Linked DNA regions of Homo sapiens: region 1 is linked to region 2. The links come from fine-mapping of genetic effects on gene expression. Tissue or cell type: unexposed skin. Region 2 holds a variant in brackets; the other region holds the start of a gene. All regions are shown on one strand. Distances are between the middles of the regions.

Region 1 (5,000 bases), 36 kb after region 2:
TGCTCACTTATAGAAGAGGACTCAGGGAGGTTAAGTAGGCGCCCAGGCTCACACAGTTGGCTCACAGCACACCTGGAATTGCCGCTGCCTCTATCCTTTGGCCATTGAAAGAAAAATCACCAGGGAAGCAGATGTACAGTTTGAGCACTCATGATGTGTCTGATGCTGCTTTGGACTGTCTACAGACCATTGATGTACTTACTAACCCTCTGTTGAGATACTGCATACACATGGAAAAACACACACGTCTTTTTTTTTTTTTAATAGAGATAGGGTCTTACCATGTTGCTCAGGCTGGTCTCAAACTCCTGGGCTCAAGCAATCCACCCGCTTTGGCCTTCCAAAGTGTTAGAATTACAGGCGTGAATCACCGTGCCCCACAGGCACATGCATCTTGACTGCACAGCTGGAAAAGTCATCATAAACTGAGCACACTGTAACCAGCACTCAGACCAAGACACAGAACACAGCCAGCCCCCAGACACGTCCTCTGTGCCCTGCTTCCTGGCTCTGGCACCCCTCCCTCCAAGGGTAACCACTATCCTGACTGCTACCCCCATATACACCTTCTACCACTTTATCCACATGGAAACAAATATGGCTTTTTATCCTCTGGCTTCTTTTCCTCAACATCATTTGTGAGAGTCATCCATGTTGTTGTGTGTAGTTGATTATTCACTGTCATTGCTGTCATTCCACTGTGTGAATATATCACAATTTATGTATCCATTTAACGGCTGATGAGCATTTCAGTAGTTTCCAGTTTGGGGCAATTATAAACACTGCTGCTATCAACAGAAACACAATGTTAGGTGTGTATCTAGGAGCAGAATTGCTGGGTAATCAAGGCCTTTCAAAAAGATTTTGAAAGTTGTACCACTTTGCATGTCCACCAACAGTGTCTGGCAGTTCCAGTTGCTCCATTTCCTTGTCAACACTTGATATGGTCAGATTTTCCCATTTCCGATGCTCTTGGAGGCTCTGCTCTGCACTTCACTTCTAAATTCCTTTAGCAACAGGTGAGATGGATCTTACGATTTCTATTTTACAGATGAGGACGCCAAGGTTCTGAGAAATGAAGTAATTCCTCCAAAGCAACTTAAACCCTGGCAAGGGTGCAGGGCTGCGACGTTAACAGGGTTGGCCTCAGCCCATCACATCTGTCTGTTAAAGCCGCCTCCCCAGACCTTGTCTTGATGGGGTTTCCCAGCAGTCCTGCCCTAGGGATTGTGGCCCTTCTACACGTGGGGAGAGACGGATCAGTGTCCCTGGCCAGGGCCAAGCCTGAGAGGGAGGCCCAGCCTCCAGGAAGCTCCGGGTCGGGTCTTCGTCCTGCCCCGCTCTCCAGGTTGGAGAGGGGACCCGCAGAGCGCGGGGCGTTGGGGGAGTTGGGGACGGGGGCGTGGTCCGGGACCAGGTAGGAGGTCTTCGGAGGGTGGCAGGGAGGGGAAAACAGGAGAGTTTTCTCCTGCAGCGGAGGAGGGGCTGCAGCACCTGGATGGGGCCCATGTCGCCGCGCCACGGGCAGGGGCGGAGGGGGCGGGAGGGTGCTTGCCAAGGGGCTGGGCTGCCGGGGGCCGGGGCCTCGTGGCTAGCCGGACCCCTCTGCGACAGAGTGGCGAGAGGAGCGGGGAGAGAAGGTGGGGACAGGCGGGGGCCACCTCCTGCGGCTGCAGAGAGGGATGGGGTGGATTGCGGGCCAGCGCTTTAGGGGAGAGAGGGCGGACGCTCGGTGCGGAGGGGCCGGGGCCGGGGCCGGGGCCGGGGGCGTAGCGGGAGGAGGGCGGGGGCGGGGCTGGATTATGGCTGGGGGCGGGGCCATGGCGAGACGGGGGCGGGAGCCACGGTGCGCGCGGGGGCGGGGCAGGGGCGCGGCGGGGGCGGGGCGGCCGTTCGGGGGCGGGGTGGGCGGCAGCGGAGGCCAATGAGCGCGCGCGGCGCAGACCCCGCCCCCCGAATCCCCGTCCCGCGGCGGCGGGTGCTGCATAGTCATGAGGCGCAGGGGCCGGCGCTGCGTCAGCGGAAGCGGCGCGGAGCGGCTGTTTCCGACCCGATAAAGCGGCGTTGTCTCCGCGCGCCGGCCGCAGCCTCGCAGCGCTCTCTCCGCGCCCGCGTCGCTGACTGACCGCCCGGCCGGCCGGCCGAGGGAGCAGCCCCCGCCCGGACCCGCAGCCGCCTCCCGACCCCGGTGCGCCCGGGGCTCCGCGCCCCCGTAGCCCCTGCCCGGCCCGGCCCGGCCGCCCCGCCGCCCCCGCGGCCCCGGCCGGAGGAGACAGGTGAGTGGCCTGCCGCCCGCAGCCGCCTGCCCCGCCGCCCCCTGCACCTCGCACCTGGGCGCCGGGCACCTGCAGCCTCCCCACCCCCACCTCCCGCACAGCCTCGGCCTCCAGGTCGGGTCCGCGCCGCAGCCCCAGCCCCGCACCTTCTCCGGGGGAGGGGACGTGCCCCCACCCGGCTTGCGCTGGCTCCTCAGGGCCCCCCAATTCCTTCCCGCCTCCTCTTTCCGGATTGCACCTGCCCTGGTCCCCAGCCCTGCAGCCTCCCTCATTCCCCCCACCCCGGCCCCCACCCCGGGGCGCGCGCCTTCATTTGGACCCGGCCCGCTTTCGCACCCATCAGTCCTCCCCGCCCCCAGTTCCTCGGTTTCTCTACCCAGAGAGGAGCCTGGCGCCTCTAACTCCTGGTCCTGACCCTGTCTTGTCCTTCTAACCCCTGCCTGCTATCTCTAACTTATGAGAATTCAACCAGCGATACACCACTCGCGAAGTGGCCCCCTCTCCCCTCTGTCTGGACCGGTCCTCCCAACCGAACACACTCCCTTCTTCCCCTTCTTCCCCTTCCCTTCTTCCCCTCCTTTCCCTCTGCCCAGTGCACACACGACCCTGGCAGCACTGCTAGCCAGTGTCCCCCGCCTCGGACCCCCAGCCTGCACCGCCAGACTGTGGCTCTGCCCCGGTCTCATCGGCACTGCGCTCCCTTGTGTCCCTTTGAAGATACCTTGATTTCCTGAGACCGACCTTGTCCCTGGAGGAAAGAGGCCAGGGCATCAGTTCATCCGGGCCCAGATTCCCTGCTCTGTAGAAGTCCCCGCACCTTCTGCGTCTCAGCACCCGCTGCCCCTTTCCCCTTTGCGCTTAACCCGTTCCTCCCCCAGGTATCCTGCTCTGGATTGGAGCACTTCCAGCAGCGGCTTTTCCAGCGGAGGCGGATCCACACGGGGCCCAGCCTCCTGGTTAGCTATTCAGAATGATTCTAGAAGGCGGGGGCTAGGGAGGGCTGGGAAGGGCCGCTTGACCTCCTAAGGAGCCTGAGGTGTTTGTGTCTCTCCAGTGCGGGTCACTGATGGAGTGTGGCTTCAGGTTCACAGACCTAGCCACTGACCCCCATCTGATACCTCAGCTGACTCCAGCAAAACAGGGCTTGTCGTTTTTATTACTGTTTTGGGGGCTGTCTTTTCCAGTCTATGACCCGGAGCGAGGAGGGTTTACCAGATGAGTGATTGAACTAATTGTTGTGGGGTCAGATGATTCTTGTGGGCTGGTAGATTCTGAATCGAAGCCCATTTCTGCTGGGGAAAAGCCACTGCATCTGCCCAGCATTACTGAGAGCGCCCTGCGCTTCCATTCCCCAGACGGTCTCATCCTTCCTGTGTCATTGGCAGACAGGTAGAATGTGGTAGGAATCTTATCCTTCTGTTATTTTGTGCTGGCTTTAGGAAAAAATAAGAAAACAAAAAGCTGGAGTATTGGTGTACAGGTTAGGGAGTGTAACACATGGGGATCAGAGCAGGTAACACACACTGTCCTTAAAAGAAATGTATAGTGTCCTCACTTTTCTGCTAGGTTTGAATTATTGTTAAAAGAACGAGCAGAGATTATTTAAATGCTTGGGAGAGGTTTTGCAGAAGCCACTTGATGAGAAGAGGCAGCCCTGCAGGTTCCGGGTGGAGGAGACTCAGGCGCAGTAAAGAACTCATGTGTTTCTAGAGAGAGGCTGGGGAACTAGGTCGTCTTACACATCAAGGATTTCACACCCGTTCAGGCTAATTGTTTTTGTGGCAGTGGCTGTAAAGGAAAGAAGCAAATCGTTTGAAATGTGTTTGAAATACACACTGGGTATTTAAAGGTGTGTTTTTTTGGCCCAGGTGTTCACAGGGCGGGGAGTGGGGAGGCTGCCCAGGGCCACCTCCCGGGCCTCGTGGGGGGAGTGGCCTGCTGCCCTGCCGAGATGCGTGCTGCAGCTTTGGCCCTTGTCGCATCGTGAAAGCAGATCAGAGATTGGACTGGGTGAGCTCCAAGGTGTGTGTCTTGCAGCTTGTAACACCCTCTAACTTTGCTTATTGGAGGGGGGTGGGGGAGGGGCGGAGCAAGCCTGTAAACCGGATTCTGCCTCCTTTCCGTGAGCTCTGAGATCCCGCCCCAGCCCGCCCCGCAGATCTGCAGGGAAGGAGAGGGCTGCGGCAGCGGCAGCTCCCCACTTTCCCGATGGAGGAAAGGAGCCGAGGAAGGTATTTCAGCCAATCTTGAGGTTGCTTGGTGGTGAATGGATTGTATCTGTGTTGTCAGGAGAGAGGTGGGGAGGACAGAGGAGTGCAGCGCAGGGGTTCGGGCTGTGATTGTCGTTCTGACCGTGGTGCATCCCAGTGCCCTCTCCCGCTCTTCCCGAGGGTCCTGACGCCCAGTGGCTGGCTGGGGTGGTTTGTGACCAACAGCCTTGTGGCCTGGCACCGAGTGAGGGTGACTGACAAGCACTGTAGGTGGCAGACAACCCCAAATTGCCAGTGCCCTTCTTGGGAACACCCCTGGCAGAGTCGTGTCTGTAATTTGTGGAGGCAGAATATGCTGGAAGCCGCGTTCCTGCTAATGATGGGTGAGGACTGTTCCTCGCTGGCCTCCTAGGTTCCCCAGGTTTTCATCACTGCGTGATTATGCTGACGAAGGCGCACTTAGTGAAACACCATCAGAAGGGTTGTCTCCACCTGAGCCAGGAAACAGATTTGA
Region 2 (5,255 bases):
ATGACAGGCTGCACTTGCACTTGTCGGGGGAGCCAAGAGCCCCCACGGCCATCCATGGTCCTCAGGTTAAAAACCTCATTCATCACCTGTGAGCCCAGAGAGGTCAGAGCCCCCCACCCCGAGTCACACAGCCTGGCAGCCGAGACCGCTGTGTGGGCAGGAGTGAGAAACCAGCCTGAGGGCTCAGATGTCCTGACAGGCAGTCCTGAGCATTGCCAACCAGATCACTGGCACCTGCCCCAAAGCCGGTGGCAAGGGAGAGAGTGCTTGGGTGTGTGTCACTCGGCGGTCTCTGGCCCCTTGGGTCAGGCAGAGGGGACAGGCCCCACCTGTAGGGACAGAGGGAGACAGTGACAGTGTCCAGTAGACCCTGGCCCGACAGCTGGGCCACGCCCCTGCCTGTGTATCCATCTGCCCCACTGTGGTTCAGCTGAGGGTGGACTGGCCTGGCAGGTGGGCACAAGGCCCGGGCCCCAGATTCCTGGAGAGGTCGGTGGGAACTCCTGTCAGGGGGCCCCAGGGAGCGGGCAGTGTGGCCACTGGGCCCTGACACCCTCTGGGGAGCCAAGGCAGGGCCAGGCCAGGGGTCTTTCCAGCCCACTCCCGCTCCCGGGCTCCGAGTCGCCTGCCAGCTGTCTCACTTCCTTCCTGTCCACTGGCCCGCAGGCCACCTGCTGCCACCTTCTCCAGCACTTGCTCTGCCTCACCCATAGGCCTTTGCTGGACTGCGGGAGGCCGGAAAGATGGAAACAACTCCAGAACCCCAGAACCTTGATTCTTTTTGTTTGTTTTTAGTTTTGAGGCAGGGTCTTGCTCTGTCGCCCAGGCTGGAGTGCAGTGGTGCAATCACAGCTCACTGCAGCCTTGACCTCCTGGGCTCAAGCGACAGCCACCCTCACCCCAATGCCCACAGTAGCTGGGACTACAGGCACATGGAACCATAGTCAGATCTTTTTTTTTTTTTTTTTTTTTTTTTTTACTTTTAGTAGAAATGGGGTCTCAACATGTTGCCCAGGCTGGTCTCCAATTCCTGGGTTCAAGGGATCCTCCTGCCTCAGCCTCCTAAAGTGCTATAATTATAGGCATGAGCCACTGTGCCTGGCTGATTCTTTAAACCAGGATTTGAAATCCTTTCTTCATATCTTGTCCCTGCAATAGCTAATAGTTCTAGAACCTTCTATCCATTCACTTCCCTCTTCCCCTGTGGCATGACCCCCACAAGTCTCTCACAGAGGAAGCCTCAGGCCACAGTGCTTACCAACGACCCCTCTAAGGGGACAAGTTGGGGGCCAGCCTGAGGGAAGGGGCTCCCACTGTGTCTGTGTGGGAGCCCTTGGGAGACGATGCTGGCCCAGCAGGGTGGGTTCTGGGCCTGTGGGGGAAGGTGGAGATGCCACACCTGAGAGCCAGCCCAGGGGTCCGTGGGGCCACAGGTGCAGGGGAAGGTGGACAGGACGAGTGGTCAGATACACTGCCCACCCCTAGGGCCTACCTGAGCCCATGCTAGGTACGTAGTGGGGCTGTGTTTGCGGGGCTGGGACCAAATCCCAGGTCCAGCCCTTGACTGTTGTGTGACCTTGGAGCAGGTGAGTTCACCTCTGTAAGCCTGTTTGCTCCTTAGTAAAACAGCCATACTCACGCTAAATTCTTGGGTGGTTGAGATGAAATTGTGGGAAAGGGACAAGGCATTCAACTTAGCACCACACACAGCCCATCTATCATTCAGCAAGCATTTATTGAGCACCTACTATAAGCCTTGGCATGGAATCAGGATGAATGAGGGACAATCCCTGCCCTCAAGGAGCCCGCAGCTGCAATCCCGGGCAGTGAGGGCCTGTCGGAAATGTAAGCTGGGCTCAACTGCCTGCTAGAGAGGTGGGGAAGGCTTTCCGGAGGAAGTGACATTTAGCTGGGTTTTGAAGGATGCGTAGGAGTTTGCATCTGGAAGGGCATCTGCTGCAGCAGGAACTGTCGGGGCAGAAGTGGAGATGCGGCTGTGTAGTGGAAGCACAGAGGCACAGGGGTCACAGGGCCTGGCCGGCTGGCAGAGGAACCTCAGGAAGGTCACCTCCCCTCTCTGGGCCGCAGTTTCCCTGTCTCTAAATGAGGATAAGCGCGCCCGCCTCCCAAATGGGACAGTGGCTGTGGCAAGCGCGGGGTGAATGCTAATGTTCCCTATTTAATTTTCCATGTTCTGTTTTGAGGCCAGTCAGGGTTATTTCTGTCCACACTCAACTATTTCCAGGCCCAGAGTCCTCCTTTCCCACAGAGGACAGCGCTGGGCCTGCCCCAGCCCACTATCTACTCCCAGGCCGTGGTGGGAGGCCAAGGGCAGGGGGCACCTGGAGAAGAAATGCAGACTCAGGATGGATCAGAGGCAGGGTGGGGACCCAGCCACCCCAGGAAGCCCAGGGCTCCAAGGGCCCCGTTTGGTGTGCCCAAGGCCGAGCAGCCCAGTTCCAAGCCCCTTTTCCAGGTGAGGTGGGACGGAGGCTCCCATGTAGTCAGGGGAAGAGAGCAGAAGCATTTACCACACCCCCCAGGACTGCCCCGCTGCTGCCCGGCCTGCCCAGGCGAGGAATCTCCCCATCCCCACAGCCACAGCCTGGTGTGCCCCACCCGGCCTCCTCCCTGTTCTCTCAGCTTCCCGGTTCCCACCATCACCC[C/G]CATTCTGGCCCAAGGGGCTGACCCTGGGGTGTGACATCAGGGAAGACAAGAGGTGGGGTTAGGGCGCTGCCTGACCTCCTACAAAACAAGCTGCCTTCCTGGTAGCCCTGGGCAGCTGGCCCAGGGATGGCCCATGGGGGCCCCGCCCTCCAGCCAGGTTACCTGCTGCTGGCCAAGAAGCTGGGGTGCTCTGGGCTGCCTCCCTGTCCCTTCTGCAAAGCCCCTGATCCCCACAACCTCTCTCCCACCCTGAGAGCCTGCCGGGGGTTCCTTCCTGGCCATCCCTGGGCTCAGCCTCCTTGTCGTGGGGCACAGGATTGGGTGGCAGGAAAGAACAGGGGGGGCTGGGGCTGGGGCACAAGGGGGGCAGGGAAGAGACACAGAGTGGAAGGTGGGGAGGGACAGGCACAGCTGGAGACGACAGTGTGTGGGGGCTCCGGGCAAACACATCTCACCTCCAGCCCGTTCTGAGCAATCCATCAGTGTGGCTGCCCCTGGAACGTGCGGGGGCACCAAGGCGGAGTTGCAGAGGCTGTTACTGATATGTGTCGTGGGGTGAGTCGGGGTGGGGGACGCATATCCCCACTCAGAACTCTGCATCGTAGATCCCATGCGTCTTGACACCTTCGTCTGCTAACATCTAGAAACCTTAGCATTTGAGAACCTTCAGATCCAAGGGTTCTGAGAGCTTAGAATTGTAGGATTTGTGAATTCTAGAAACAAAGGCAAGAAGATCACCCGTAGGGTGTCTCCTCTGCTCATGCAGCCTGGAGGGACCTCTCGGTGATCCCCGGCCGACCCCTCCCCAGCACTCAGCCCAAGAACCAGCCTCAACCACCTCCCTTCCCAGCTCAGCCTCACCTGCTGCCCAACCTGCAATACCTCCTCCCATCTCCCATCCTCAGACAGCCCATCCCTCCTGCAAGGTCCAGTCCGAAGTCGTCACCTCCCCCAGGAGGCCCACCCGTCCTCCTCAGCCCAGCCTGACTCTCAGGATCAGGCTCACCCTGCGGAGGCTGAAGCCACCAAGTCATAGTCCCAGTCCCAAGGGGAAGACAGGCCTGGAGCAGGGAGAGGTGTGGGCAAGAACACAGCCTCCGTCCCACAAAGAGGAGTTCAAACCCCCGCTCCAGCCCAAATGGCCCGGGCAGTGCCCTCACTCGTCTGCTTCAGCAGCCTCACCCGACTACTCACGATGGCTGCAGGTGGAAACTGCCCACGCATCTCTCAGCAGCTGAAAGGATGACTCCACAGTGGACGATTACTCAGGTGTAAAAAGGAGCAAAGCACTGGCACATGCGATAATGCGGAGGGACCTGAAGCCACCGTGCTAAGTGAAAGAAGCCAGACACGAAAGGCCACATGGTGCTCACACCTCCAGAGATGTCCAGAACAGGCAAAGCCAGAGACAGAGCACAGACGTGCTAGCCAGGGCTGGCTTCCTTGGAGGCTCCCAAGGAGAATCTGTTTCCCTGCCTTTCCAGCCCCTGGGGGCCCCCCTGGACTCCATGGCTATGGCGGCGGGTGCCAAGGCCCTGCAGCAGGGCACGACCACCAGGACCCATTGGGAATTGGCATCTGACTCCCTTCCACCACCCCGGGTGCCCCCACTTAGGAAGAGCCGACTCTCAGCAACTGTGCCCAGAGTGGCCTGGCCCATCAACCATGTGCCCCCTCAGCCTTCCTGCAGCCATTCAGAGACAGCAGTAAACACTCCTCCATCCCAGTGTGTGGGCCCAAAGCTGAGATCCCAGCCCAGGTCTCCCAGCTCACAGCCCTGCCCAGGGCCATCCTCCTGCTAGACGTCACCACATCAATGAGCATCTACCCCGTGCAAGGAAGAGGCCGGCGATGGGGTCCAGGTGAGGGGACAGCCAAGCCCACCAGGCGGTGGCCTTCCCTCACCTGCCCATTCTGGGCTAGGTCAGCTCTACCTGGAGCCTGAGCCCAGGCCCCTCCAGTGCCCTCTGCTGACTGCAGCAGACTGACCACCCTGGAGACCCTCCTGCCCCTGCCCCGAGACCCTCCATGCCACCCTGCCTCCAACCTCTGTCTTCTGCCCCCATTGCCCCTTCATGGTCCTGCAGGCCGCCCATGCTCTGTAAATCCAGCCCACCTGGGCACCCCGTGAGACCTCGGACCCGTCACATCCTGGTCCCTCCTCTTCCCCCACCCCCACATCCGACTGGCACTCCCTTTGGGCAGCTCCATCCGGTGGTGTCCTCTCTGAGTCCCAGGGCCTGCATCGGGTGGTGTCCTCTCTGAGTCCCAGGGCCTGGCACTCAGCAGGCCCTGGGGACATCAACCAGGGGCCCTTGAAGCTGTGTCCCTGGACACAGTTTCCCTGCCCCAAGCCCTGGCACATTCGGCCCAGGCTTGGCAAAAACTCCTTGTCCTCCAAGGACTCGGCTGCACCAGCCACTCAAATAAATTGATGTTCCCATCTCTGCTGACTCATGGATGAGAACATCGGGGCTCCTGCCAATGGCCACACACACCCCCAGCCCCACCAGGGAATAGCCCTGCACCCTGCAGGGACAATGTCATGAGCCTGAGAAGCCACCAGCTTCCCCTACTCCGTGAGCACC

Direction of the effects. Positions count from the first base shown, and alleles are read on the strand shown. Sizes are in standard deviations (SD) of each study's normalised expression.
With allele G in place of C in region 2, the expression in unexposed skin of the gene that starts at base 2,084 in region 1 is higher (small effect, 0.31 SD a copy in GTEx).

The links. PIP is the estimated chance that this variant, and not a neighbour inherited with it, causes the effect.
Region 1: SLC45A4 starts here. The variant in region 2 is fine-mapped to the expression of SLC45A4 in unexposed skin (GTEx, PIP above 0.99). The same link has a PIP of 0.9 or more in sun-exposed skin.

Annotation. Positions count from the first base shown.
Region 1 is chr8:141,305,372-141,310,371 of GRCh38, reverse strand. SLC45A4 (solute carrier family 45 member 4) reads left to right here and starts at 2,084. Exons shown (of 9, transcript NM_001286646.2): 1 at 2,084-2,276. RefSeq lists silencers at 1,849-2,088, 2,109-2,208.
Region 2 is chr8:141,341,083-141,346,337 of GRCh38, reverse strand. It overlaps LINC01300 (long intergenic non-protein coding RNA 1300), which reads right to left. Exons shown (of 4, transcript NR_024441.1): 2 at 3,862-3,997; 3 at 3,123-3,380; 4 at 1,717-1,994. Among named protein-coding and RNA genes, the nearest start is that of LINC01300, 3.2 kb to the right of the region's middle. RefSeq lists enhancers at 1-491, 3,665-4,165. The variant C/G (reference allele first, on the strand shown) is at 2,667.